7 linked regions of the Homo sapiens genome follow. The protein of the gene in region 1 purifies or fractionates together with the protein of each later gene. This does not show direct contact. Each region holds a gene or a part of one and is shown in the gene's direction. Other genes may lie near its edges.

What was found.
Region 2: the proteins of MED1 (region 1) and ZNF326 fractionate together in Homo sapiens (co-fractionation; one large-scale study listed by BioGRID). This does not show direct contact.
Region 3: the proteins of MED1 (region 1) and POLR2B purify together in Homo sapiens (affinity purification with mass spectrometry, with the first as the bait; one large-scale study listed by BioGRID). This does not show direct contact.
Region 4: the proteins of MED1 (region 1) and RPAP2 purify together in Homo sapiens (affinity purification with mass spectrometry; 3 studies listed by BioGRID and IntAct, with this or other methods). This does not show direct contact.
Region 5: the proteins of MED1 (region 1) and MED12L purify together in Homo sapiens (affinity purification with mass spectrometry; 3 studies listed by BioGRID and IntAct, with this or other methods). This does not show direct contact.
Region 6: the proteins of MED1 (region 1) and RALY fractionate together in Homo sapiens (co-fractionation; one large-scale study listed by BioGRID). This does not show direct contact.
Region 7: the proteins of MED1 (region 1) and SPAG5 purify together in Homo sapiens (affinity purification with mass spectrometry; one large-scale study listed by BioGRID and IntAct). This does not show direct contact.

Annotation. Positions count from the first base shown.
Region 1 is NC_000017.11:39,406,249-39,409,786, reverse strand, and holds part of MED1 (mediator of RNA polymerase II transcription subunit 1), read left to right. Parts: coding exon 1-2,312; 3' UTR 2,313-3,538. UniProt on the Homo sapiens protein: Component of the Mediator complex, a coactivator involved in the regulated transcription of nearly all RNA polymerase II-dependent genes.
Region 2 is NC_000001.11:90,033,097-90,036,058, forward strand, and holds the end of ZNF326 (DBIRD complex subunit ZNF326), read left to right. Parts: 3' UTR 1-2,437; downstream 2,438-2,962. UniProt on the Homo sapiens protein: Core component of the DBIRD complex, a multiprotein complex that acts at the interface between core mRNP particles and RNA polymerase II (RNAPII) and integrates transcript elongation with the regulation of alternative splicing: the DBIRD complex affects local transcript elongation rates and alternative splicing of a large set of exons embedded in (A + T)-rich DNA regions.
Region 3 is NC_000004.12:57,023,885-57,027,422, forward strand, and holds part of POLR2B (DNA-directed RNA polymerase II subunit RPB2), read left to right. Parts: intron 1-120; coding exon 121-228; intron 229-1,001; coding exon 1,002-1,115; intron 1,116-1,492; coding exon 1,493-1,653; intron 1,654-3,538. UniProt on the Homo sapiens protein: Catalytic core component of RNA polymerase II (Pol II), a DNA-dependent RNA polymerase which synthesizes mRNA precursors and many functional non-coding RNAs using the four ribonucleoside triphosphates as substrates.
Region 4 is NC_000001.11:92,326,545-92,330,082, forward strand, and holds part of RPAP2 (putative RNA polymerase II subunit B1 CTD phosphatase RPAP2), read left to right. Parts: intron 1-3,538.
Region 5 is NC_000003.12:151,088,638-151,092,175, forward strand, and holds part of MED12L (mediator of RNA polymerase II transcription subunit 12-like protein), read left to right. Parts: intron 1-3,538. UniProt on the Homo sapiens protein: May be a component of the Mediator complex, a coactivator involved in the regulated transcription of nearly all RNA polymerase II-dependent genes.
Region 6 is NC_000020.11:34,073,906-34,077,443, forward strand, and holds part of RALY (RNA-binding protein Raly), read left to right. Parts: intron 1-1,968; coding exon 1,969-2,135; intron 2,136-2,796; coding exon 2,797-2,910; intron 2,911-3,122; coding exon 3,123-3,340; intron 3,341-3,538. UniProt on the Homo sapiens protein: RNA-binding protein that acts as a transcriptional cofactor for cholesterol biosynthetic genes in the liver. Binds the lipid-responsive non-coding RNA LeXis and is required for LeXis-mediated effect on cholesterogenesis.
Region 7 is NC_000017.11:28,579,513-28,582,026, reverse strand, and holds part of SPAG5 (sperm-associated antigen 5), read left to right. Parts: intron 1-1,906; coding exon 1,907-2,018; intron 2,019-2,189; coding exon 2,190-2,276; intron 2,277-2,514. UniProt on the Homo sapiens protein: Essential component of the mitotic spindle required for normal chromosome segregation and progression into anaphase. Required for chromosome alignment, normal timing of sister chromatid segregation, and maintenance of spindle pole architecture.

The DNA of each region.
Region 1 (3,538 bases):
GCTCTGGGCATTCTCAGAGTACCCTGTTTGACTCTGATGTCTTTCAAACTAACAATAATGAAAATCCATACACTGATCCAGCTGATCTTATTGCAGATGCTGCTGGAAGCCCCAGTAGTGACTCTCCTACCAATCATTTTTTTCATGATGGAGTAGATTTCAATCCTGATTTATTGAACAGCCAGAGCCAAAGTGGTTTTGGAGAAGAATATTTTGATGAAAGCAGCCAAAGTGGGGATAATGATGATTTCAAAGGATTTGCATCTCAGGCACTAAATACTTTGGGGGTGCCAATGCTTGGAGGTGATAATGGGGAGACCAAGTTTAAGGGCAATAACCAAGCCGACACAGTTGATTTCAGTATTATTTCAGTAGCCGGCAAAGCTTTAGCTCCTGCAGATCTTATGGAGCATCACAGTGGTAGTCAGGGTCCTTTACTGACCACTGGGGACTTAGGGAAAGAAAAGACTCAAAAGAGGGTAAAGGAAGGCAATGGCACCAGTAATAGTACTCTCTCGGGGCCCGGATTAGACAGCAAACCAGGGAAGCGCAGTCGGACCCCTTCTAATGATGGGAAAAGCAAAGATAAGCCTCCAAAGCGGAAGAAGGCAGACACTGAGGGAAAGTCTCCATCTCATAGTTCTTCTAACAGACCTTTTACCCCACCTACCAGTACAGGTGGATCTAAATCGCCAGGCAGTGCAGGAAGATCTCAGACTCCCCCAGGTGTTGCCACACCACCCATTCCCAAAATCACTATTCAGATTCCTAAGGGAACAGTGATGGTGGGCAAGCCTTCCTCTCACAGTCAGTATACCAGCAGTGGTTCTGTGTCTTCCTCAGGCAGCAAAAGCCACCATAGCCATTCTTCCTCCTCTTCCTCATCTGCTTCCACCTCAGGGAAGATGAAAAGCAGTAAATCAGAAGGTTCATCAAGTTCCAAGTTAAGTAGCAGTATGTATTCTAGCCAGGGGTCTTCTGGATCTAGCCAGTCCAAAAATTCATCCCAGTCTGGGGGGAAGCCAGGCTCCTCTCCCATAACCAAGCATGGACTGAGCAGTGGCTCTAGCAGCACCAAGATGAAACCTCAAGGAAAGCCATCATCACTTATGAATCCTTCTTTAAGTAAACCAAACATATCCCCTTCTCATTCAAGGCCACCTGGAGGCTCTGACAAGCTTGCCTCTCCAATGAAGCCTGTTCCTGGAACTCCTCCATCCTCTAAAGCCAAGTCCCCTATCAGTTCAGGTTCTGGTGGTTCTCATATGTCTGGAACTAGTTCAAGCTCTGGCATGAAGTCATCTTCAGGGTTAGGATCCTCAGGCTCGTTGTCCCAGAAAACTCCCCCATCATCTAATTCCTGTACGGCATCTTCCTCCTCCTTTTCCTCAAGTGGCTCTTCCATGTCATCCTCTCAGAACCAGCATGGGAGTTCTAAAGGAAAATCTCCCAGCAGAAACAAGAAGCCGTCCTTGACAGCTGTCATAGATAAACTGAAGCATGGGGTTGTCACCAGTGGCCCTGGGGGTGAAGACCCACTGGACGGCCAGATGGGGGTGAGCACAAATTCTTCCAGCCATCCTATGTCCTCCAAACATAACATGTCAGGAGGAGAGTTTCAGGGCAAGCGTGAGAAAAGTGATAAAGACAAATCAAAGGTTTCCACCTCCGGGAGTTCAGTGGATTCTTCTAAGAAGACCTCAGAGTCAAAAAATGTGGGGAGCACAGGTGTGGCAAAAATTATCATCAGTAAGCATGATGGAGGCTCCCCTAGCATTAAAGCCAAAGTGACTTTGCAGAAACCTGGGGAAAGTAGTGGAGAAGGGCTTAGGCCTCAAATGGCTTCTTCTAAAAACTATGGCTCTCCACTCATCAGTGGTTCCACTCCAAAGCATGAGCGTGGCTCTCCCAGCCATAGTAAGTCACCAGCATATACCCCCCAGAATCTGGACAGTGAAAGTGAGTCAGGCTCCTCCATAGCAGAGAAATCTTATCAGAATAGTCCCAGCTCAGACGATGGTATCCGACCACTTCCAGAATACAGCACAGAGAAACATAAGAAGCACAAAAAGGAAAAGAAGAAAGTAAAAGACAAAGATAGGGACCGAGACCGGGACAAAGACCGAGACAAGAAAAAATCTCATAGCATCAAGCCAGAGAGTTGGTCCAAATCACCCATCTCTTCAGACCAGTCCTTGTCTATGACAAGTAACACAATCTTATCTGCAGACAGACCCTCAAGGCTCAGCCCAGACTTTATGATTGGGGAGGAAGATGATGATCTTATGGATGTGGCCCTGATTGGGAATTAGGAACCTTATTTCCTAAAAGAAACAGGGCCAGAGGAAAAAAAACTATTGATAAGTTTATAGGCAAACCACCATAAGGGGTGAGTCAGACAGGTCTGATTTGGTTAAGAATCCTAAATGGCATGGCTTTGACATCAAGCTGGGTGAATTAGAAAGGCATATCCAGACCCTATTAAAGAAACCACAGGGTTTGATTCTGGTTACCAGGAAGTCTTCTTTGTTCCTGTGCCAGAAAGAAAGTTAAAATACTTGCTTAAGAAAGGGAGGGGGGTGGGAGGGGTGTAGGGAGAGGGAAGGGAGGGAAACAGTTTTGTGGGAAATATTCATATATATTTTCTTCTCCCTTTTTCCATTTTTAGGCCATGTTTTAAACTCATTTTAGTGCATGTATATGAAGGGCTGGGCAGAAAATGAAAAAGCAATACATTCCTTGATGCATTTGCATGAAGGTTGTTCAACTTTGTTTGAGGTAGTTGTCCGTTTGAGTCATGGGCAAATGAAGGACTTTGGTCATTTTGGACACTTAAGTAATGTTTGGTGTCTGTTTCTTAGGAGTGACTGGGGGAGGGAAGATTATTTTAGCTATTTATTTGTAATATTTTAACCCTTTATCTGTTTGTTTTTATACAGTGTTTCGTTCTAAATCTATGAGGTTTAGGGTTCAAAATGATGGAAGGCCGAAGAGCAAGGCTTATATGGTGGTAGGGAGCTTATAGCTTGTGCTAATACTGTAGCATCAAGCCCAAGCAAATTAGTCAGAGCCCGCCTTTAGAGTTAAATATAATAGAAAAACCAAAATGATATTTTTATTTTAGGAGGGTTTAAATAGGGTTCAGAGATCATAGGAATATTAGGAGTTACCTCTCTGTGGAGGTATTGACTTGTAATCTCATTTTCCTTTCAAAAAAAAAAAAAAAAGCTAAGGTGGCTTGTTGGGATGTAAACATGTTTTCAGATGCAGTAAGGTTTAGTGTAGGACAGCCTTCCTGACCCAGTGGCATGAAAACCATTACAGGATTAATAGTTCTCCTACTTCCACAATGTGCCAAAAGTCTGCATCCCAGCATTTTGTTTGCAGGAGAACTGATGCCATTCCTAAGAGCTGGACTCACTGTTTCTCTTCATCACAAGGAGAAGGAGTCCAAACTTTAATCACTCCACTGTATGCTCCCTGAGATAAAACAGTAAAAAATCCGCAGCCATAGTTCACTTAAAACAATTTCAAGCTC
Region 2 (2,962 bases), on another chromosome or scaffold:
TAAACTCCAGATAATGATACTGAGAAATTTATTGGTTGGAAAACTGCTATCTACAGGCCTTCCACTACCTATTTCTTAGTAGATTTTACATTTTTAAAGGGTTGTAGAACACCAAAACAATATATGACAGATACTGTGTTTGGGCCTTAAAGCCTACCCTTTATATAAAAAGTTTGTTGACTCCTAGGCTCTCATTTGCAAGTAGACAAATGAGAAACAGCAAATATTTAAGGAAAAGAGCAACATGAAAAATACACAGCAAACTTAACAAGCAGAAAGAATTCCTGGGGAAACAATTCAGGGGGAAAAAATGACCAAGTATAATTAGTATTATATGGAATAATAATTACTACTACTTATAATAGTTTCATATGTAATCCTCATCATATTATATGTCATAATCTTCAAATATTTTAGAGGTTATTGTACTAATTTTAAAAATGCAAGTTGCTATAAAGAAGTATCTTGGAAATAAACAGTTGTGAAAATAAACTCTGTTTTAGGCTGATTAGTTGAATAAACATGGCTGAGAATCAAATTACTGAGCTAGAATTTTGAGCTGAAGATACTTCCAGAGCTTACAAGAAAAGATAAAAAAGATGGAAGTTACAGTAAAAGACATAGATGTATCTCTTAAAGACATAGAAAACCCAGAACACCATCTGTTTAAAAATTAAACTTCATGAGATTAAGAGCCATATGTATAGAGAATTCACCATTGAATACCCTGCATATATCACAGTGCCAGGTAAATACTATGCAATAAATATTTTTGAATGTATGTATGTATGTTACAGTATAAATATATAGAGGAGTTCCAGAAAGTGAAAAAAGAAGTGAAGAATAGGAAAAAAAAAAAAATCTTCTGATGAAAGATTCATATTAGAAGTCTCCAGTGCTGAGCAAAAACAATGAAAAAGTCATGCAGGATGAATACTGACAAAATATGTGTAATCCCAAGCTTAGAAAAATCTCAAAATGTCTAAAGAGAAACAGTGTACCTATAAGGGGAAAAGAATCACATTGGTCTCAGACTTGTCATCTGTTCGTTGGAGTGCTACAACATACTGCTATTTTTGAAGTTCTGAGGGAGAACTGTTTTGAATTTAGACTTCTATCTTGAGTGAAACTGTCAAGAGTAAGGGCACAGCAAGGACATTCTACCAATTTTAGAACATGCAAGGATTTCAGAAATTAACTCATAAAACACAACCTGCACGGCATGGTATCAAATTATGTAAAGAAAAACTTGGTAAACAAGAAATTGTCAAATTTATAATCATAGCTACGTATTTGAACACAGCGCTTAGAAATTGTCAGATAAAGAGTTCAAAATAGAGGAAACATTTTGAATTATATAGTGCACAAATTTTAATAGCTATAGAATATTTGTTTTCAAATGCCATGAAAAAATGACCATGAAGCAAAAACCACAATATTTTTTTGTTTGTTGATAGGTAGGAATTCAGGGTCCATCCTGTCATCACAATGCAATGAAACAAAAAATTAGCAAGTGGATAGCAATAAATCAATTTTTAAAAATCAGACAAAAGAAAACACTGTCCTTGTAATGCTTGCATTTAAAAGGAAATAAAAACTTATGAAAGAGAATCTTTATTTTATTTAAGCAGTTCTAGATTATACAAAATGTTGAAACATCTCAATTTGGTCTCTGAGGCTAGCATAATCCTTATTCCAGAAAATTGTTCATCAAAGATAGCTATAGACCAGTCTCACTTACGAACAAATGTAATTTGTTGAAACTGGTCATGTTGAAAAAACATGACCAATTAAATATCCCAAAATAATGTGTCATGGTAGAGTAGGGTTTATCTGAAAACTGCAACATGACGATTATGTAACTCAATCCTTTAGGAAATTTATTACTTTAACTTAAAAAAAAATACCATAAGCTTGATAGATGCTCGAAAAACATTTCCTAAGATTGAACACATTCCAGATTTAAATTTTTCAGGCTGAGAATAGAATAAAGCCTTTGTAACTTGGCTAAGGACTAGGAAGGTCTTCCAGAAAGCTTCATCAAACATCTGCATTCAAGTCAGGATTAAGACAATAATGACTGTTGCCTATGCAACAATCATTTAACCCTAAGAAATAGAAGTATTAGGAAGAGAAAACATAGTCCTTATTTTGAGCAGTGTGATTGTAGAGACAAACATCCAAGAGAAACAGTTGAAAAACTATTAGAAATGACAAAAGGTAGTTTTGTTTAATAGTTCACCATGAAAATCTGTACTATATAGAAAATCTGTATATAGAATATAGCATTGGCCAATTGGAAATGTAATTTGAAAATCCCATTTGCAGCAAAACTTGGAACTGTATACTGTCTAAGAATAAACAATGGGAAAAATGCAAAATCCTTATGAGGAAAATGATACATTTTAATGGAGGAAATAAAATGCCTGAATAAACACTGTGTTCCTGTCTGAAAAATATTGTCTGTATGCCAGTTATCTTCAGATAATTCATAAATTACCATTCCAATTGTTACTTAGAGTTAGTAGTGGTGGCGAGAGAAAGTTAAAAATACCAGCTTCAGGAATATTGAAGTGTCTTTCTCATATATATAAGTTCAGATAGACAAGGCAGGGCTGGTGTCACCCTTCAAGGTGTCAGAGACTGAGGCTCCCTCTATCTTGTTACTTTGCTGTCTTTAAAACCTTATCTTTGGCCGGGCGTGGTGGCTCATGCCTGTAATCCCAGCACTTTGGGAGGCCAAGGCGGGCAGATCATGAGATCAGGACATCGAGACCATTCTGGCTAACACGGTGAAACCCCGTCTCTACTAAAAATACAAAAAATTAGCTGGGCGTGGTGGCGGGCGCCTGTAGTCCCAGCTACTCGGGAGGCTGAGGTAGAATGGTGTGAACCCGGGAGGCAGAGCTTGCAGTGAGCCGAGATCATGCCACTGCACTCCAGACTGGGCGATAGAGGGAGA
Region 3 (3,538 bases), on another chromosome or scaffold:
ATGAACATACCATGTTTAAACAGAATTTGGGACATACAGTAATTCAGTTGGGAGAACTGAAATGTCAGTTCTAGTTTAGTATATGTATCTTTGAGTCCCTTTTAAAATTTTTCTTTGTAGGATATGCCTTTCACCTGTGAAGGTATCACCCCTGATATCATCATCAATCCCCATGCCATCCCCTCTCGTATGACTATTGGTCACTTAATTGAATGCCTTCAAGGGAAGGTAAGAGATGTTCTTCAAAAATATAGATTCTAAGCTGATGCTTCTTCTAAAACTCTGATAGGTGATTGCTCTCACATTTGAGCCAGGGTACTTTGTAAAAAGCTAGTGTGAGACTTACTTTTCTGCTTTCAAATTGCTTATGATTCTGCCATTTTTTTTGGCAATTTGCAAAGTTATGGACAAGTCAGAATTTTTGTGAGATATACTACATTCAACTAATACATATGTGATTTTCCTTTTGACTAGTTCTTTTCTGTAGATGAACAGTTAATTTGTTGATGGAGAGTTCAATGTGAACTTAATAATTTTATAGTTCTATTATCAGCTCTGCATACATCTTTTGGTGGAGGTTTTCTATTTTTAAGTATTCTTTTAAGGTAAAGTGGTAATAGTCTAACATATGGATGGCTTGGTTTTAGGGCATTAAAATGTCATTTTCCTTTGAGCCATCTGAAGTACTTAGGAGTCTCACTCTTTTTGTACCTGATCCCATGGATCGACTTCTATTTGAATACTTATAATTGAGTTTTTCTTTTTTAAGCAAGTTTATTTGTTCTAAATGTTTTGTGTAAGGTTATAAAATGAACCTTATATATCACAGCTTTCCATAACATAGATTTTGAGTTCAAAATCTTTGAATTTTAAAATACTTAAAATAATACTTTCAAATTTTAAAAGTATTTAAAAATTTTTTGAATGCATTTTTATTGATATGACTTTTAGGGGGAGACAGACTGAAGCAACATTTTAAAGAGTACTTTTTTTTTTAAAAGGTATCGGCTAACAAGGGTGAAATTGGTGATGCCACTCCATTTAATGATGCTGTTAACGTGCAGAAGATTTCTAATCTTTTATCTGATTATGGCTATCATCTCAGAGGAAATGAGGTATATTTGCTCTTATAGTAGTAATTTGCCACTTGTTTTTTTTTGTATGTGTGTAGTTTTATTCTGAAACAATGTAACCTTTTATTGAAGTATCATATGTGCACATATAGAAATGTACAGCTTGATGAATTTTCACAAAGTAAACACAGCTGCATGACTAACACCAAGATCTAAAAATGTGAAGGTAGCGACTGAACCTTTTTTAGTCGCTACCTTTCCACTCCCACCCCAAGCTAATTACTCTCTTAATTGCTAACATTATAGATTAGTTCTGTGCTTTAATTTTTATATAAATGGAGTAACACAATATATACACATATCTTCTTTGACGTTGTTTAATTTTTAGGTCTACACTTCAAAATCTGTGTTTGTTGCAGGTCCTGTACAATGGGTTCACTGGTCGAAAAATCACATCACAAATATTTATTGGCCCCACTTATTACCAGCGTTTGAAGCATATGGTGGATGATAAGATTCACTCTCGTGCTAGGGGACCTATTCAGATCCTCAATAGACAGCCCATGGAGGGTAGATCTCGGTAAGAACTGTATCATCATCATTATTATTAATTAACCTTATATTATGAAAAATGTCAACACACCAAAATGGAGATAGTGGTATAGTGAATGCCTGTGTGCCTGTTACCCCCATTTCAACAATTATCGACTGATGGCCAGTCTTGTTGCATTCATCTCTGTCCTTCTAACCTTTGATATTATCATCATGTTTTAAAGGCAGAGTCTCACTCTGTCACCCAGGCTGGAGTGCAGTGGCATGCCCACAGCTCCCTGCAGCCTTGAACTGGGCACAAGCAATCCTACCTTAGCCTCCCAAGTAGCTAAATTAATATTGTCTCTTAAGTCCTTTTTTGAATTTATTGGTTGTCCTCCAACCTTTTTTTTAACTACAGGCATGTGCCACTACACCTTTAAAAAAAAAATTTTTTTTTTGTAGAGGCTAGGCGCAATGGCTCATGTCTGCAATCCCAGCACTTTGGGAGGCCAAGACGGGTAGATCACCTGAGGTCAGGAGTCCAAGACCAGCCTGGTCAACATGGCAAAACACCGTCTCTACTAAAAATACAAAAAATTAGTCGGGCATGGTGGCACACACCTGTAATCCCAGCTACTCGGGAGGCTGAGGCATGAGAATCACTTGAACCTGGGAGGCGGAGGTTGCAGTGAGCCGAGATCACACCCCTGTGCTCCAGCCTGGGTGACAGAGTGAGACTTCATCTCAAAACAAAAAACAAAAAATTTTGTAGAGACGGGGGTCTCACTATGTTGCCCAGGCTGGACTTGAACTCATGGCCACAATCCTCTAGCCTCAGCCTTCCAAAGTGTTGGAATTACAGGCGTGAACCACTGCACCCAGCCCTCTTGATTATTTTTAAGCAAAGCCCAGACATCATATAATTTCTCCTATAAATTTTTCAGTGTATATCTTTAAAACAATGGTTCTCAAATGTCTTGATCCCGGGAACCCAAAATGCTTTTGTTTTATGTGAGTTGTATTTATTGATATTTATCATATTAGAAGTTAAAGCTGAGATTTTAAATTTATTGTTTTAAAAATGCTAATAAGCTCATTACGTGTTAACATAAATAACATGTTTTGGCTGGGCGTGGTGGCTCACACCTGTAATCCCAGCTACTCGGGAGCCTGAGGGAAGAATTGCTTGAACCCAGGAGGTGGAGGTTGCAGTGAGCCAAGATCGTGCCACTGCACTCCAGCCTGGGCGACAGAGTGAGACTCTGTCTCGATAACAAAACAAAACAAAACAAAAAACCATGTTTAATGAAAAATATATCTATTTTCCAGATGAATTTAGTGACAAGAATAACATTGGTTTACATTTTTGCGAATCTCTCTAATGACCTGGCTTAATAGAAACAGCTGGATTCTTACATCTACTTCTGCATTCATTCCATTGTAGTATTTTATTTTTTATATTTAAGTATATGAGGAAGTTCTAATTTCATGCAAATAAGTGGTTGGAAAGAGAGGAATATTTTGGCTTTTTTTTTGTGAGACAGTCTCACTCTGTCACCCAGGCTGGAGTGCAGTGGTGCGATCTCGGCTCACGGCAACCTCCGCCTCCCGGATTCAAGCAATTCTCGTGCCTCGGCCTCCCAAGTAGCTGGGATTACAGGTGTGCGCCACCAAGCCCAGCTAATTTTTGTATTTTTTGTAGAGCCAGGGTTTCACCATTTTGCCCAGGCTGGTCTCAAATGGTTGGCCTCAAGTGATCCGCCTGCCTTGGCCTTCCAAATTGCTGGGATTACAGGCAAGAGCCACCACGCCCAGCCCACCCCTTCCCTTTTTTTGAGACAGTTTCATCCCTGTTGCCTAGGCTGGAGTGTGGTGGCACAATCACAGCTCACTGCAGCCTCTACTTTCCAGGCTCAGGTGATCCTCCCATC
Region 4 (3,538 bases), on another chromosome or scaffold:
TTCAGCTACCGGAGTGGGTAGGGAAGGACCGTCATGGGGGCAGGGCTATGTGCGTCTGAACTCAAGACTCCTTGGGCAGGGCTTGCTGTGGCTGTTGTGGGGGATGGGAGTGTGGTTCCCAGGTCAGTGGAGCTATTCCAGGAAGATTATGGCTGCCTCTGCTGTGTCATGCAGGTTGTCAGGGAAGTGGGGGAAAGCTGGTGGCAGGCCTCACCCAGCTCCCATGCAACCCAAAAGACCAGTTTCACTCCCACCATGTCCCTTCAAACAGCACCAAGTTTGTTTACAGGCAGTGGGCAGGAAGGGCTGAGAACTTGCCCCAGGCTACCAGCCTCTCACCTGTGAGAACAAGTAGGGCTTTCACATCTCCCAGCCTGTGGAGTCTGCACACCAGATTCACACCCTCCCTTGAGTTCTGGCCAGGAGACTTCCTGTTCATTTGGAATTGTTACAAAGTTCAGCTGGCCTATCATATGGTCTATCTCGGAGACTGTTCCATGTGCTGATGAATAGAATGTATATCCTGCTGTTGTTGGGTAGAATGTTCTGTAAATATCTGTTAAATCCATTTGTTCTAGGGTATAATCAAAATTATATCAAATATTCTCTCAGACCACAGTGGAATTTTTTAATTTCTACTTAGATTTCATTGTTGACCTAGTGATCATTCAGGAACAGGTCTTGATGACCTGTCTAGTGCTGTCAGTGGAGTACTGAAGTCCCCCACTATTATTGTGTTGCTTTCTATCTCATTTCCTAGGTCTCGTAGTAACTGTTTTATAAATTTGGGAGCTCCAGGTTTAGATGCATATTTATTTAGGATTGTCATATTTTCCTATTGGACTAGTCCTTTTATCATTGTATAATGTCCCTCTTTGTCTTTTTAAACTGCTGTTGCTTTAAAGTTTGTTTTGTCTGATATAAGAATAGCTACTTCTCACTTTTGGTGTCCATTTGCATGGAATATGTTTTTCCACCCTTTACCTTAAGTTTATGTGAATCCTTATGTGTCAGGTGAGTCCCTTGAAAAGCAGATACTTGGTTGGTGAATTCGTATTAATTTTGCCATTCTGTATTTTTTAAGTGGAGCATTTAGGCCATTTACATTCAATGTTAGTATTGAGATGTGAGGTACTATTCTATTCATCGTGCTATTTGTTGCCTGAACAGCTTTTTTTTTTTCATTGTCTTATTGTTTTATAGGTCCTGTGAGATTTATGCTTTAAAGAGATTCTATTTTGGTATTATTTCCAGGATTTGTTTCAAGATTTATCGCTCCTTTAGCAGTTCTTGTAGTGCTGACTTGGTAGTGGTGAATTCTCTCAGAATTTGTTTGTCTGAAAAAGACTATCTTTCCTTCATTTATGAACCTTAGTTTCGCTGGATACAAAATTCTTGGCTGACAGTTGTTTTGTTTAAGGAGGCTAAAGATAGGACTCCAATGTCTTCTAGCTTATAGGGTTTCTGCTGAGAAATCTGCTGTTAATCTGATAGGCTTTCCTTTATAAGTTATCTGATGCTTTTGCCTCACTGCTCTTAAGATTCTTTCCTTCATCTTGACTTTCGATAACCTGATGACTATGTGCCGGGGCAATGATCTTTTTATGATGAGTTTCCCAGGTGTTCTTTGAGCTTCTTGTATTTGGATGTGTAGGTCTCTAGCAAGGCTGGAGAAGTTTTCCTTGATTATTCCCTCAAATATGTTTTCCAAACTTTTAGATTTCTCTTCTTTCTCAGGAACACCAATTATTCTTAGGTTTGTTTGTTTGACATAATCCCAAACTTCTTGGAGCCTTTGTTCATTTTTTAAATTCTTTTTTCTTTGTTGGACTGGGTTAATTCAAAAGCCTTGTCTTGAAGCTCTGAAGTTCTTCTACTTGCTCAATTTTATTGCTGAGACTTTCCAGTGCATTTGCATTTCTCTAAGTATGTCCTTCATTTCCCAAAGTTGTGATAGTTTTTTATTTATGCTATCTATTTCACTGGAGATTTTTCCATTCATATCCTGTATGATTTGTTTGATTTCTTTAAGTTGGGCCTCACCTTTCTCTGGTGCCTCCTTGATTAGCTTAATAATTGACCTTCTGAATCCTTTTTCTGGCAATTCTGAGATTTTGTCTTGGTTTGGATCCATTGCTGGTGAGCTAGTATGATGTTTTGGGTTGTTAAAGATCCTTGTTTTGTCATATTACTAGAATTGTTTTTCTGGTTCCTTCTCATTTGGGTAGACTGTGAGAAGGAAGATCTGGGACTCAAGGGCTGCTGTTTAGATTCTTTTGTCCCACAGGGTGCTCCCTTGATTTGGTGCTCTCCTCCTTCCCCTAGGGATGGGGCTTCCTGAGAGCCAAACTGCAGTGATTGTTATTGTTCTTGTGGATCTAGCCACCCAGCAGAGCTACCAGGCTTCTGGCGGGTACTAGGGAGTGTCTGCAAAGGGTCCTGTGATGTGATCCGTCTTCAGCTGTGGATACCAGCACCTGCTCCAGTGGAGGTACAGGGGAGTGAAGTGGACTCTGTGAGGGTCCTTAATTGTATTTTTTTTAAGTGCGCTGGTTTTGTGTTGGTTGGCCTTCAGCCAGGAGGTGGTGCTTTCAAGAGTGCATCAGCTGCAGTAGGATAGGGAGGATACAAGCTTGCTCTGGGGTCAGGCAGTGGGTAGGGCCATAGAGCTCCCAAGAGATTAAGTCCTTTGTCTTCGGCTACCAGGGCCAGTAGAGAAAGACCATCAGGTGGGGGTACCATTGTGTGATTCCCAGGCCAATGGAGTTATGTTCCCAGGTGGATTATGGCTGACTCTGCTGCATCACACAGGTCACTAGGGAAGTGGGGGAAAGCTGGCAACCACAGGCCTCACCCAGCTTCCACACAGCCTGCAGCCTAAAAGGCCAGACTCACTCCCACCGTGCCCCCACAACAGCACCAAGTTTATTTCCAGGCAGCTGATGAGCAGGGCTGAGAACTTGCCCCAGGCTACAGGCCTCCCAGCTGAGAAAGCAAGCTGACTCACAGTTCCTTGCCTTTTCTGGTATGTTTCTGCGGTAGTTCTTGGAGCAAAAGTTCATGATGGGAGTCTCCACATGCCGCTCTGTCTGACCAAGTGGGAACTGCAAGTTAGTCCTGCCTCCTATCTGCTATTTTTTCCCAGACCTAACATTTATTTTTAATATTAAACCAACTTTGCATTCTTATAATAAACTCAACTTGATTGAGCTATAATAGCCTTTTTATATAATACTGGATTTGGTCCTCCTAATATTTGCCTTAGAATTTTTGCACATATTTTCAGAATGAGTGACATTAGCGTATGAATTGGTCATGGTCTCATCATAAATCACATGGTACAAATTAAGTAATCTGAGGAAAGTTTAATTATAGGACTGTTTTCCAAAGCGTGAAAATGTGGTCAGAATGAAGGAAACCAAAGGAATGATACACTAATCATAGTTTGAGAGCCCTCACCACCCCTAGACCTCAAGGAAAAAGGTAGGAGTGGACCACAAGGTCTTGTACCAAGGAAGTGCTGCTTGTAGTGGACCAA
Region 5 (3,538 bases), on another chromosome or scaffold:
CTCTGATTCTGGAAAGAGTAATTTTGGATTTCAGGGTCTCACAACATTTTATGGAGTTCTAAAACTGGAAGCGACCTTAGGGACTACTTTCTATAACTTCCTTTTGACTAAGTGAAACAGGCCTGGGAAAGCTTGACTCGTTTAACCAAGGTGTATAGGTGAATAAGCAGAGGAGTTGTACCACCAAACCAGTATTTATGTCAAAACTAATACTGCTTTGAGGATGATTTATGCTAAATTATCTTCTGATGTTATCCCCTTTCCCCCAAGGCAGCCAATGTTTTAACTCTCCCAAGCAGACAGAGTTATGTGTGGCTGTAGCCAAATTTGGGTACAATATGGAACAGGTGCTTGGCTGTTCTTGGGTGGTTGGTGAGTAGAGTTTCCTAAGCTTTAGTTATTTATGTCCTACCTCCCTCAAGATTTCTACCCTACCCCTGTACCACCTGTACTTTTATTCTGAAGTTTTCTTTAAACTAATTTTTTAAGAAACTTTGTGTTTCCTGGGCAGTACTACACGTGGAGTCATGGATTTATTGAAATATATGTATATATAAAATTTATATCAAATCATGTTTACATACTATTTTTAATCTATTTGATATTACATGCACACACGTATATGATTATACATAATAAAATGAGACCATTACTATTAACACTTTAAAAGTTCATCTGTGTATCGAAAACAACAGTTGTGTTCCATTAGAGATAGCTGTGGTGGAAAATGCTGATTTAATGGAGGAAGTGTGGGCTTCCAAGTTGGGCCAACCTGGATTTAGCTTTTTTTTTTTTTTTGCAATTGTGTGGCCTTGGGCAAGTTGCATAGCCTCTCATTTGTAAATTAGTTTGTGCACTTCAGAAAAAATTTCAAACCAACATTTGTGTGAGAAAAGCCCTCCTCCTGGTAGAAGTTATTCTTGTCACCATAAATGTAATTTTTATTGTTGTTGTTAACCAGTGGTAATATATTTCAGAAAAGGGCTCCCAGAAGGTAGGGTGGAACCCATGAACGAAGACCCATGTGGAGAAGTATGGGGGTGGGGCGGGGGGGAGAATATGGAAGCTTTAACCTGCCTGATGGATTGGTTATATTTTTTTGAGAGCTTGCTGTGCATCAGCATCCTGTAGGACTTCATTATATATTGTGTTATAATACTTTGCTTCCTACAAACAGACTGTGCTCAAGCCTTTAAAGCAGGGAATCAGAAAACTGGCAGTCATCCTTGAGACCTCCTCCTTGCTTATACCCCATTCATCCATCAGCGTCTCTACATCCATGCGCACATCCTGTTCAGTTCCAAAATATATTTCCAATCCACCAGATGCTCTCCAGTTTCACCAGTATGCTTGGTCTCCCTTCTGGCTTCAGGGTGACTTCTCTTCCCCAGGGCTCCTGCATATTCTGTTCTGGTCTTTCTGCCTGGACACCTGTCTAGCCACCCCCTCCCACTTAGCATTCCACTCAGCTCTTCTCACCTTAGCCTGTGGTTAGAAAGGTAGGCTCTGGTGCCAGTCTGCTTGGGTTGGGACCCTGGCTGTCCTGTTTATGTGCCCCTTATTCTCCCTATACTTCATTTTCCTTCCATATAGAGTGAGAGTGATAATACTACTTAACTCATAGGGCTGTTGGAAGATTACCTAGATAGTATATGTAAAAAGCACTTAGAACAGAATCTGTCATAGATTCAGCCCCTATATGTTTGCTGTCATGAACTACTGTCATGCCTGCCCCTTCATCATTCAAGTCTCAGGCTTTTCTGATATATCATTTACAATTATATACTTATTTGCATCTTGCCATCTCCCCCTAATAGGTCAGTTTCATGAGGGCATGGATGAGGTCTGTTTTGGTATGGCAGAAGTACCTGGCACCTGCACAATTAGTTCCTAGAAGGCTGAGGGCACAAATATTTATTGGAACATGAATAAACTTGGGATGAATAAATTAAAAAGGGAAATCCGGTGACTGAGGGCTGTTGGGGAAAGTCAAGGTTAAAGCTGAAAGTATCCTTTGCATCTATCTGCTTTGGAGCCTAGGTTAAGCCTGAAAGTAAAATTAAGCTCCAGAAGTAGGAAGGAAGAGGAGGTTTACTCTGGGACAAAAGAGACTGAAACAGGGCCAGGCGTGGTGGCTCATGCCTGTAATCCCATCACTTTGGGAGGCCGAGGCGGGTGGATCACCTGAGGTCAGGAGTTCGAGACCAGCCTTAACAACATGGTGAAACCCCGTCTCTACTAAAAAATACAAAAATTAGCTGGGCATGGTGGTAGGCGCCTGTAATCCCAGCTACTTGGGAGGCTGAGGCAGGAGAATCTCTTGAACCCAGGAGGCGGAGGTTGCAGTGAGCCGAGATTGTGCCATTGCACTCCAGCCTGGGGGACAGAGCAAGACTGCATCTCAAAAACAAAACAAAACAACAACAACAAAAAACAACAGAAAAAGAGGCCGAAACATTTGAAGAGTAAATATGTGCAGAAAATCAAATTTGTTAGAAAAATGGGTTGGGGCAGTAATGAGATTTCCGGGAATCAGGAGCTGTAGAGCCCCACCAGCAGGGACCTACGGGAATAATGGCCTGGTGTGCAGTGCAGGGGCTGCCCGAAGATATACACAGCATGACTTAGGAGAGCTGGTGGTGATGGTGGTGTCTGCATGCGGATATCCCAGAGTGGTGGTTCTTCAACTTCAGAGGACATTCAGATTACCCTGAAGGCTGGTTGAAACAGATTGCTGGGTCTCTAAGATTCAGTAGGTCTGAGGTCAGGCCTCAGAAATTGCACTGGTGACAAGATCCCAGGTAATCTGATGGTGCTGGTCTAGGGCCCCACTTCGAGAACCCTCACCTAAAGGGAAGACATCCAGTTCTGCAGGGGCTAGAGCATTCTGCTTGATACGAGCAGGGCTGGATTAGACTTCTATGTATGGCTGAAGTTGCAGTAGTTTGGTTTAACAGCCAACCCAGCCAAGATTTGGTGTTCTTGTCCCAGAATTTGTGCCCTCTCTTAGTTCAGATCTAAGGGAATGGACCAGGAAGTCTCAGTCCCCCTCCAGTGGCTTTTTCCATTACACTTGAAATAAAATGCAAACCCTTTACCTTGGCCTTCAAGGCCCTACCAGTCTGGCCCTTGTTCACCTCTGCAGTCATTGCCTGCAGCCAAACAGCCTGGCTTTGAGTTCTGGCTACTCTGTTTACTGCCTGTTTGACTCAGCTTCCTCAACCATGGAATGAGGTTTGTATTTCTTCCAACTTCATAGAGTTGCTGGGAAGAGAAAATGAGCTAATGTATGCAAAGTGTGTAGAATCGTGCCTGTCACACAGGCAGCACTCAACACAGGTCAGCCACTATTAGCTGATCCCTTATTAAAGGATGCTGGGGGTCTCCTGTTGTACTTAACCATAACAGCCACAAGATCCTGCCTTTCAAGATCTGGGCTTTGAGTCACCCCTTCCAACTTGCTGTGTGGTGGGACCACAGGCTGCCTCTCTCTTCTTCCAACAGGCCTAGCTTCTTTGTGTATAGGTTCCTGTCCCTT
Region 6 (3,538 bases), on another chromosome or scaffold:
AGCTGGAAGGGTCTTGAGAGATTGTTGGTGCAGCCCACTGAGTTCTCCAAATGAGAACCAAAACCCAGAGGTTTGCCTGGGGTTGCTCCACCAGTCGGTAGCAGAGCTGAGACTGGGGTCCTGTGCTGCAGGTGCTCAGGCCAGAGCTCCTACCACCATACAACACTGTCTGCCATGCTAACTGCCCTTTTTCCTTCTTGTCCTTGGGTGAGGCTCAAGGAGACCGTACAGCCAAGAGCTATGTAAGTGTGGCTAGTTGGAATACACAACAGGGTACAGCGCTGGTTGCAGGGAGTTTGAGCCCTTCCCTCTGTGAGGTGCCCAAGCAGCTGGTAGGAGCCCCAGAGCTCAGTCTAAGCTTCTTGGGTTTATATTTAGAGACAAGAGGCCAGCAGCCATTTGGAAGTCTAATTAGTCCCTGGCGGGCTGTGGTCTACCCTGCACTCCCAAGCCCTACCCAGACTCCAGCCCAGAGGCTGTGGGCTCCCACTACAACAGCACTAGCCACATTCTTGAGTAGAAATCATGGTAGATACTAACTCAAATCTCTCCTCCTCCCTGCTTCTCTCCCTCTGTCCAGCTTAGCCCACCCCAGGCAGCCCAAGAAGAACAGTGCCTCTCTGAGCATGAGTCGTCCGCCCCCATCCCCACCCCGCCCCTGTGAGTCGTTTCAGGAGACAGTGTGGTGTAGTGGAAAGTGTCTTAGCCTGGGGGTCAGAAGATTTAGATGCTAATCTCAGCTCTGCCACTGAATGGATTATGTGATCTTGGGCAAATTCCCTTCCCAGTTTGTGAAATGGGCTTGCACCAAGTGATCTCTCCAGGCTCCTCCAGCTCTGGGATTCTGTGGTTCAGTGATTCTGACCAAGGCCAGAGCCGTTCCCTCCCCTTGGGGGCAGAAATGCAGGGTCTGGGATCGGATCCATTCCCAGAGACTCTCCATCTGCAGCCATCACCACCTCCAGGAAGGGGCTCCCTGAACAAAGGAGCCCCAAGGAATGGGGCTTTTGCCCAGTGATGGCAGGTTTCCTGGCCGTTGTCAGGAAAATTGACCCAAAGTTTACCCCCTGGGCTGCGATTCCCTGAAAAAGGTGGCAGCAACAGATGTCAGAGAGACCACTTCTCAGCCTACTGAGTTTCTGCCTGGTCAGCTGGAAAGGAAGCCCTCCTAGAGAGGGCTTGGAGATGACTTTGGTTGGGGGCAGTGCACAGCCTGGGAGCCCTGGGGGGGTCTGATTGAGCTGCCCAACCTTGATACTCTACCAAGCCCCTGGCCTTTGTCTCTGGAATGGAGCACGAAGGATGTGGTGATTAAGGAGGTCAAGTAAGGAAAGGGCTTAGAGTTCAGTCTTATGCCTCTGAGGTCATGGGTTCGTGAATTGAGGGTCTCAGTACCCTGACCTTTCATCTATTACACGTTCTAAAGTGTGTTTTTAACCGAATTCTTTCATGCTGTGCCCTTGGGTGGACACTGAATGTGGATAGCCATCCTCATTTGGCATATGGGGAAACTGAGGCTCAGGTAGGCTCAGTTGACCCCCACTCCCATACCTCTCTATTCCTAGCTGGGGATTTGTGCTGCTTTGAGATTTGCAAACTCTGAGCAGAGGTTGGGGTGGCAGTTGACCAAGCAGAAGCCAGGTCATGTAATAGAGCAGGCCTGGGTGCCAGGGGACCTAGGGATGTCTCCTCTTTTGAATGGGGTATAACTGCTACCACCTGATGCCTTGCCTGCCCTTACTGGGCCTGGATGGTTGGAGAGGTTGTAGTGAGGTAGTGAGGATCCCAACAGCCATCAGGGTCCGGCAAGCCCTTCCTCTTCACTCCAGGGCTTGCTAGGAGCCAGCAGAGGTGTGTAGTGCAGGCCTCCCAGCCCCTCACCAGCCACACACGTTTGTAGCCGGAGCTGCAATACCGCCCTGGTGGCCACAAGCCATGCTGCAGCCTCTGGCCCATCTGCCCTCACAGGCTCTTCGACTACCGGGGCCGTCTGTCGCCCGTGCCAGTGCCCAGGGCGGTCCCTGTGAAGCGACCCCGGGTCACAGTCCCTTTGGTCCGGCGTGTCAAAACTAACGTACCTGTCAAGCTCTTTGCCCGCTCCACAGCTGTCACCACCAGCTCAGCCAAGATCAAGTGTGAGTGACTGTATCATATTCCTAAGTAATTTGCATTTTTATCATTAGCAAAATAATAGAATCACATTTTTTACATTGGAACATAGATAAAACAACAAGTCTTCCACAGTTCTGCTGCTCTAACACAGCCAAGTATTTTCATGCATTTCTAAGAGGAAACAGCTGATGTTTTAGGAGGAGGGGTTGTGTTGGGCACAGAGAGTCCAGTGCTGGATATGGTGCCCAGTGAAGAAATGGTGCCATCTTTCCTCTAGTAAGGATAAGGACAGGTCTACCCAGGCCCATTACTCCACATTCACTCTGGTACACACATGCTGCTTAACTAATCACCCAGGAATTCAGATTCCAAAAGACACATGTTCTTGCTCAGGTGCACACAGAAGAGCACACCACACATACACACCTGTGCTCCTGTCTGTCTTTGGTCCCTTTCAGAGTTGAGAGATCAGGAGAAAAGATAGCCAGGTTCAGAAGTGTGTGCTGTCACTGTAGGGATGGACGCCAGGTAGTCTAAGGAGGAGACCTTTTTCCTAAGCAGGGAAAAAACAAAACAAAACAAAAAATAACTGCTTTCCTGGTTGAAAGAACAGGGCTGAGGTTTTGTGCTAGTGTCAAGCCTCCAGCCCCCTAGGTGACAGCCCTGTCCCCCCTCCACTCCCAGTAAAGAGCAGTGAGCTGCAGGCCATCAAGACGGAGCTGACACAGATCAAGTCCAATATCGATGCCCTGCTGAGCCGCTTGGAGCAGATCGCTGCGGAGCAAAAGGCCAATCCAGGTCAGCCTCTGAGGATTCTCACCCACCTCCATGACCAGGGCACAGGGCAGAGCATGGGGAAATAGTACATGGGAGAGAGGAGCTAGGGTGGCCCTGCAGATCCTGGACCACCTGCACTCACCATGCTGAGGCCAGCTTCCGCTAAGGTGCTGCCCTAGACAGCTACCCCAGGCTGAGTTTTATTCTCCCCTCCTCCACCCCTTCCCCTCAAGATGGCAAGAAGAAGGGTGATGGAGGTGGCGCCGGCGGCGGCGGCGGTGGTGGTGGCAGCGGTGGCGGTGGCAGTGGTGGTGGCGGTGGCGGTGGCAGCAGCCGGCCACCAGCCCCCCAAGAGAACACAACTTCTGAGGCAGGCCTGCCCCAGGGGGAAGCACGGACCCGAGACGACGGCGATGAGGAAGGGCTCCTGACACACAGCGAGGAAGAGCTGGTGAGGGCCTGGCCAGGGGCACGACTGGGACTCGACTGTGCTCCTACTCTCAGGAGGCCAACAGGGGAATGGGCAGCCTGAGCTGGTTGCCCCCACTGTGAACTTCCTGTTCTCTCCTTCCCAGGGGTTCTGGTCCTGGGGGAAAGAGGGAAGAATGAGCAGGGGGCACTTGCCTATCTCAGACACCATCAGAAGTCC
Region 7 (2,514 bases), about 11 Mb from region 1:
CAATTTGATGTAAGAGTGACCAATTTGATGTGAGAGTAAGTTAGAAGAGTGAATGATGATCCTTAGATTGCTAGGAAAGAGGGCCCAGCGGGTCAGCTGTGTTAGTGTGTGGAGACTAGGGCTAGTGACACCTCCGGGTCAGCTCTGTGCCCAGGAAGCACTTCAACCTGTGTGGCAGGAGGGATAGCAATAGGAAGCACTTCAATTCCCCACAACTCAGACACCCAGACGGGAGGGCAGAGGACCAAGGCTGAAAGGAGTAGAGAGCCTGAGAGAGAGATGAGACTGAGGGGAGCTAGTGGTGACTCAGGCTAACCAGTCAGCGGGAGAGACCTAGACCGGGGGGCAGAGAAGGCGGGAGAACTGGAGAGAGGACCTAGCCTAGGAGGAGAGGGAGCAGGCTGAGAAGGAAATGCTCTGGGTAGGAGAGACAGACTCCAAGGAAAAATCCAACAAGTAGAGGAGGATTTGGGATTGGAAAAGCTGAGGTCCAGCTGGGAGAGCTGAAGAGGGATAGAACAGAAGAGGTTGAGCCATGGGGTTTCAAGTACGCGGAAAGGAGCAAAGATGTTAGGAAAGGGTCGAAAGGGCACATCCCGGAGTCCCAGGTAGCAGGACGAGGATGGCAGGGGAAGAGCCAAGGAAATGAAGCGGAGATGTTGAGTGGCTCCCGCCTTGCCTGGCCTTACCTGTGCGCAGCCAGTTAGCAGCCGCAGCCACAAGCACAGCTACTTCAGGACTGAGGCCAGCAAGCTTTTCCTATAAATGGCCATATAATAAGTATTTTTGGCTTTTTGGGCCATATGGTCTCTGTCTCAACTACTCAATTCTGCCTTTGTAGTTCAAGAGCAGCCATAGATGATACAGCCATTAATGGGTCTGGCTGTGTTCCAATAAAACTTTATTTACAAAAATAGTTGGCAGGCTAGATTTGACCTGTAGGCCACAATTTGCTAGCCTTCCCTCTCCCTGCTCTAGAATAGTAAATACAGGAGTAGGAACAGACTTTTGATAGGGTGTTCCCTATCAGGGCACAGGGAAAATGGTGAACTCAGCTTCATACATACTAAGTTGACAGATTGACTGTGGAACCTTCTGGTAGATTCTTCACAGGCAGTTAGCCTTTGAGTCTGCAGACTGGGAAAAAGACTGGGAAAAAGTTGAGAGAGGGATGGAAGAGTCATTCATGTGGAAGGGAAGTTTGAAGTAGATGTTTTTGTGATGCTCCCAAGGCAAGGCCACCCTGGGAATGAATTAGAGTAAATTTAGGGCCAAGGACTTAACCCAGAGGATCCAGCAGTTAAGGAAGGACCTGTGAATAGAGAAGAAATAACCAGAAAGGTGTGGGGCCTGCCTTTAAAGGAGAGAGACTCATGTCCTGGAAGCTAAGAAAAGGAAGTTTCTAAAAGAACAATGTGGTCATCAATATCAAATAGGTCAGGTAAAACAAGAGCTGAAATATATGCATTGCATTTGAAAGTAAGGCTGCCATTGGTGAACCAAATGACAAGAATTTAGGTGGAATGACAGGGGAGAAGCCTGAGTGTAGTGGGCTGGGGAGTCAATAGATGGTGAGAGTTATAAACAAGAAGTATAGGCTCTTTTTTTCTTTCTTTTTTCTTTCTTTCCTTTCTTTCTAGAAAAGGCAGTAGCTAAAAGGGGATTTAAGGTAAGAAGAAGGGTTTTGTTTTGTTTTGTTTAGGTTTGTTTTTAAAATACTGCTGTTTTTGTTGGAGAGGCTTAAGAATATAAACATGTTCAGAGAAAGGCACTAATGGAGAAGTTGAAGATAGAGAATTGAGATAATAGGTGGAACAGCATTTTGGAGGAGATGGCTGGGAGTTACCTGGAAGCCCAGGAGTTCACTAGACCTGAACAGCAGCTATTTTTTCTTCTTTGCCCTTAGACTGAACAAGAGACCCTTCTGCTGAGTACAGCCTGTCCTCCCACCCAGGAACACCCTCTGCCTAATGACAGGACCTTCCTGGGAAGCATCTTGACAGCAGTGGCAGATGAAGGTTAAAGGCCCTGGGATTTGGGGGTGGGAAAGTTGTGACGCTGCTCCTGATATCTTCTGCTGTTGAAGATGTCCACCAGCGGGCTTGTCTATCTTACCCTGGCTTCCATTATGGTAGACCCCTGCCTGGATCATCAGAGGGGCCCTCTCCCATTATTGGTTTTTCTCTTAGAGCCAGAATCAACTCCTGTGCCCTTGCTTGGAAGTGACAAGAGTGCTTTCACCCGAGTAGCATCAATGGTTTCCCTTCAGCCCGCAGGTTAGGAGGGGCTCCAGGGATCCTGCCTCATTTCTAGAAAATCTGGTGGTGATGAGTAAAGACGAAAGCAGTGAGAAGTGCTTTGCTCTAAAAACCTCAATTCTACTTGGGCTCATTTTATTTCTGCCTTCTGGGATCTGTAATGTTCCAGACATTCAAATCCTGTGGGTGGGGAACACGGATAAGAGTTGTGGAAATGATGGCTATACACTCCTTCCTTCCAGGGCTGGAAGGCTAG